Regions from separate parts of the Homo sapiens genome. Here region 2 is linked to region 1. The links come from fine-mapping of genetic effects on gene expression. A gene starts in region 1. The other region holds a variant in brackets. All regions are shown on one strand. Distances are from middle to middle.

Region 1 (2,927 bases):
TTCTTTTTTTTAAATGATATCTCTTTAAAATTATTTTAAATTGATCTGTAATATATATACATATTTTCAGGGTACATGTGATTTGATACACTCATATAATCAAATGAAGGTAAATGGAATATCCAACACCTTAAATATCTATATTTTATTGATGTTAGGAACACTTGAATTTTGCTCTTCTGGCTATTTTGAAATGTTAACTATAGTCACCCTACTGCTCTATCTAACACCAGGACTTATTCCTTCCACCTAATGCATATTGGTACCCATTCATCAACCTCTCTTTATCTGCTCTGATATGGTTTGGCTCTACGTCCCCACCCAAATCTCATATTGAATTGTAATTCCAATGTGCTGGGGGAGTGACCCGGTGGGAGGTGACTGAGTCCTGGGGGCAAGACTTCTCCCTTGTTATTCTCATGATAGAGCTCTCAGGAGATCTGGCTGTTTGATAAATGTGTGGTGCTTTCCCCCGCTTTCCCCTTGCCTCTCCTGCCACCTTGTGAAGGAGGTGCTTGCTTCTCCTTCCACCATGATTGTAAGTTTCCTGAGGACTTCCCAGCCATGCAGAACTGTGAGTCAATTAAACATATTTTCTTTAAAAATTACCCAGTCTCAGGTAGTTCTTTACAGCAGTGAATCTACTCTCTGTCTTCACCCAATGTTTTCTACTCACTTGACTTTCTTTACTTACTCTCATCCCAGTTCCAGCCTGTCTCCAGACCCAAAGAGAGTTCATCACCCCTTGACTGAATAGAGCCTCTGGACTTCAGCTTCCAGTGGTTAGCAGCACCACCTCACTCCAGGAGAGCTGCAGGACCAGGCAGCTCTGTGCTCCCTTCTGTGTTTTATCTGATGGCATTTAAAAATTACATAAGATAATAATAGAGAATAATATCCTCACCCCATTAATGTGTCACACAACAATATTTTGGTCAACAACAGACCGCATATACACTGTGGTCCCATAAGATTATAATGGATCTGAAAAAATTCCTGTTGCTTAGTGATGTCTTAATGACCCTGTGTAGGCCCAGGCTAACAAGTGTGTTTTGGTCTTACTTTTTAACAAAAAAATGTTAACGGCAAAAAACAATCAAAATAAAAAATAAATAAATAAATAGAAAAAAACTTCTAGAATAAAGATATACAGAAGGAAAATATTTTTGTGTACAACGTCTTTGTGCTTTTGTTGCCTGTTTAGGGTAGTTGTCCAGGTTCTTGGCGTTTTTAACAGAGAATTGAACAAAACACACAAACAAAGCAAGGCAGTGAAGGCAGGGATTTAAACAAAGTACACTCCATAGGGAAGGAAAGGCCTTGAGCAAGCAGCTCAAGAGCATTGATTACAGAATTTTCTGGGGTTTAAATACCCTCTATAGGTTTCCCACTGGTTCATTCTGCGCAAATCAGTCTGATTGGTTGCAGGAGGGAACCGGTTGGAGGTACTTTCATTTTCAACTGCCACACAGAAAAAGGAGGGGTTGCAACTGCCACATAGCAACTGACACGCCGAAAAAGGAGGCGTTGCAACTGCCACACAGAAAAAGGAGGGGTTGCAACTGCCACGCAGCAACTGCCACGCAGAAAAAGGAGGGGTTGCAACTGCCACGCAGCAACTGCCACGCAGAAAAACGAGGGGTTGCAACTGCCACGCAGCAACTGCCACACAGAAGAAGGAGGGACTGCAACTGCCATGCAGCAACTGCCACACAGAAAAAGGAGGGGTTGCAACTGCCACGCAGAAAAAGGAGGGGTTGCAACTGCCACGCAGCAACTGCCACGCAGAAAAAGGAGGGGTTGAAAAGGGAGTAGCTTCTGATATTCAGTAAGTACGAATCGGCCTTAGGTTCCCTGCCTCAAGACCCTATTCTCCTGCCTCACTTTTAGCTAAGGGTTATTACAAAAGAGTCAGAAAGTTAAGACAAAATATGAAAGTTTATAAAGTAAAAAGAGTTACAGTGAGCTAAGTATAACTTATTGAAAACATTTTTTTAATTTAGTATAGCCTAACTGTGTTTATACAGTCTACAGTAGTATACAGTAATATCCTAGACCTCCACATTCCCTCGCCACTCACTCACTCACTCACCGACTCACTCAGAGCAACATCCAGTCCTGGAAGCTCCATTCACAGTAAGTACCTTATACAGGTATACCATTTTTACATCTTGTATAGTGTATTTCTACTGTGCCTTTTCTATATTTAAATTTATTTAAATACACAAATATTACGTGTTAAAATTGCCTATAGGATTCAGCACGGTAACGTGCTGTACAGACTTGTAGCTAAGTAGCAATAGGCTCTGCCATATAGAAGGTGCAGTAGGGTATACCATCTAGGTTTGTGTAAGTACACTCCTTGATGTTGGTACAACAATGAAATCACCTAGCTGTGCATTTCTCAGAATGTATCCCCACTGTCAAGTGATACATGACTGTATATTAATATGAAGATGAAACCTAGCTATGTAAAGAGATTTTTTTACATGTGCATTTTTCTTCATCTGTTCCCAAAGCTCCCCTAAAATGCAGTGAAGATATTTTTTAAATTATAAACCCACTAACACAAAGAAAAGAACAATAGCAATAACATTTTAAATCTAGAAAAAAAGGAAAATTTCTTAGTGGTTGACAGAAACTTAAATCCTAGGCCAGTTTTGGGAAAATTAGAAAAAAATCAAAGGAACATAATATATAACTCAAAACCTGCAAATTGCTCAGAATTCAAGAAGTCAGATATTTCTGGAAATAGGAGAGATGGTGGATCTAAAAAGAAATTTGATTGATGTTTGTTTAAGAAATAAACTAACATTCATAATGATTTTAGAAAAGATGAAATGAATGATGTGGGGACATCTGAGTAATATAAGAAAATTAGATTCATAAGTTAGAAAATATAAGAAGTTGAATTCATAAGTTACAGC
Region 2 (2,927 bases), 73 kb after region 1:
AGTTTTTAACTTTTTTAAAACAGGTGCTAGCAGAAGGGAGATAAGGGTTCCAATCTACCCTCTTGTCCAGCAAAAGTTTTGACAAATTTACATTTCTTCCACAGAAAGATGTATAAATTAATGTATTCATGTAACATTTACATTTAATCTAGTTTCAAATACTAGGAGAAGACTTATTAAAGTAAATATGAATCTTTTCATAAAAGCAAAAATATTTTTGGTGATTTAAATGATCACTGGCAAAGCTTCCAGGCTCCATCTTTCACTTTTTTGGCAGTTCAGGGAGGTTAGAATTTTGTGATGGCTTAAAGAAACATATATCAAGAATCTAAGATATTTGTTATTGTTTTGCATATTATTCATGCTGTTTTGTGCATTCATGTCTGAATTAGTCAATGTCATGGTCCAATATGCACTCACTGAAACCCAACTTCACAAGGCTTTTATAAAGCGAAATATAATATTTAAACAATTCTCCTCCTATGTGTTTCACATCATAGAGGCTGATTTTTAACAAAGAATGGAAATAATAGAAATATTCCAAATCAATTTACTAGGTAAAAAGGGAAACAGAGAAGCAATTATGCAATTATCTCCATGCAAAGGCTTTCAGAGTTGTTCTGCCTAGAGGAGATAATATGCAGTATGGAGGGAAGAGGCAAACAAAAATGGCTTTAGCTCACTTAATTTCAAATGGAATGCAGCTAATGTTCATATTCTGAATAGATATTAATTTGTCATCCTTTTAGCCACTTGTTTTGTATATCGTATTTCTGGTCATTATTCCCCTTATTTTAGGCATATTATTTTCTCTTAACACAAGAATACAAGTTTCAAGAGTATTGGGATATTTTAAAGTTATTTTCTATATTGCTATATCCCATAATCTAACATGGCATCTGGCAAATAAGAGATGGTCAATAACAATTTTTCACTGAATGTTGAATGAGTTTATTCTATTTAGAAATACTGAAAACAGCCATCATGCTACACTTTAGGAAGGGGGAAGGAGAGAAGAAAAGAGAATTTCCAACAAGTTTATAAATGTTTTGAATATGGAAAATCTATATGATATCCCTTTATATATTCAAAACCTAAAACCTTTCAGTAACAAATATGAAAACACCTAACATAAAATATAATAAATATTGTTAATGTAATTATCACCAGTTAATTCATTCCCAAAGGAAAACTATAACAAAATTTTGAGTTCTTTCGCTTGCATACATTCCAAAAAATCCAATTCAATGGATAATTTCTTCATATCACTTCTCTCTCACAGGTCTCTAAAAGAGAAGAGAACTATATAGGCAATAGTTGTTTCAGAACAAGAATGTGCTCATTATTTTATAGTCTGGAAAACCAACTAACCCTTCTCAGAGAAGAAGCCTACTTCAGGAGTCTCATTGCATTTAGGGAATAAAAGTTAGTTTCATTATGATTATTCTTCATTAAGAAATAAAGCTTGATTCTTTTTTTGCATCAATCCTAGCACAGTTCTTAAAGCACAAGATGATTTAAAATTCTTATTGACTAAATGAATGGTATGATAGTGAGTAAACTTTGTCATAATACAAGAGGGTAGGAGAATTGAGCAATGCATTCTTCATTACT[G/A]TAGATAACCCAAGTGTCACTTTTAGTTGATTTGAAGATATATATTCTGTATGCTTATTTACTTATGATGAGTCTGCCTAAATATTGAAGAAATTTGGCATAGTGGAAAGAATTCTGATCCTAAAGTGACAAGTCCTGGGTCTAAAACCTAGGTTCGCTCCTTCATTAGCTGGGTGATTTTGGAAATGTAGTGTCCTCATTTCAACAACAACAACAAAATAAGAAACCTGCTGTGAAATATATCACAGATTTGTTTTAAAAATCAAAAAAGATAATGGATATAAAACAGAGGTATTGACTACTGACGCTTAGCAACTCACATGAATAAAATGTTGAATAAGATATAGTCCTGCTCTCACACCACTTAGCTAGTAGAGATAATAAGCACATAAACTAGAAAGTTCTGTATAAATGAGTCTTCAGCAGAATGCTGCAGAGACATGATTCTGGAGGAGCCTTGCAATGGTCTAATTTTTCACTTCAACTCCTTACTCAACAGTTTCTTGCAATCAACTTTCTGAAGTCTCTTTTTACTCTAAGAATGGACAAGTCTATTTTTGAAAGATGTTTTCTTTCCAATCCTGTCTTCAGTGAGCAATATCAGTTCTAAGGCATGGCCTATCCCTGAAATCTAAGAGAAATAGAAGATGGAAATATCTACATAGCAAATAAATATTTTTGGTTACTATTCACATTGTAAATGAAAAAAAGATTTAACTGAATAATTGAGTTCTGAAAAGCAATAGCTTTTAAATATTCCCCAAATATTTAAGAAATTTTATTAACTCAAATAACTAATTTTTATGATGCTTTCTTTATCTCTCACCACTAACTGTGTGGCCTTGGGCAAGTTATTTAAATTTTATATATTTCAGTCACTCCAAATGTAACTTGGGAATAATAATAACACATACCTCATAAAATAGTTGCAGGGTGCCATTTGAATACTGAGCATGGGAGTATATATTATGCAATCCATACATTTTAGCCTCTATTATTATTCTTTTATTCACAGAGAATATAAGAGTTCTTCATACGTGACCTTCCTGGTCATATGCTGAGCTCTGAAATTCCAAACCAGTTCAAATAGTCATCTCCCTCTGGCTTCCTTCCATTGGACTAGCAAAGATGATGCAGTAACTTTACCTTAGTCAGGCAGAGGACCTGAAGGGAAAAGATAGCCCCATTGTGAAACATGGGAGCTGCTTGAGTTTCCAGGGAAGAATTATTGAGCTAAATAGAAGGAATTGCTCTTCAGTGAGGTTTCTTAGGGTGTGTGAGGTGGGGGAGAAGTGAGAGCTGAGAGAAAATGC

Alleles and levels. Alleles are on the strand shown, and positions count from the first base shown. SD is a standard deviation of normalised expression in the study named.
As copies of G replace A in region 2, the expression in testis of the gene that starts at base 1,627 in region 1 goes up (large effect, 1.3 SD a copy in GTEx).

What was found.
Region 2: its variant is fine-mapped to the expression of LINC02475 in testis (GTEx, PIP above 0.99).

The regions. Positions count from the first base shown.
Region 1 is chr4:44,015,235-44,018,161 of GRCh38, forward strand. It overlaps LINC02475 (long intergenic non-protein coding RNA 2475), which reads left to right and starts at 1,627. Exons shown (of 2, transcript NR_131959.1): 1 at 1,627-1,828. It overlaps LOC105374438 (a long non-coding RNA gene), which reads right to left and starts at 1,841. Exons shown (of 5, transcript NR_188377.1): 1 at 1,374-1,841; 2 at 695-852.
Region 2 is chr4:44,087,763-44,090,689 of GRCh38, forward strand. No RefSeq gene overlaps it. Among named protein-coding and RNA genes, the nearest start is that of LINC02475, 72 kb to the left of the region's middle. The variant G/A (reference allele first, on the strand shown) is at 1,615.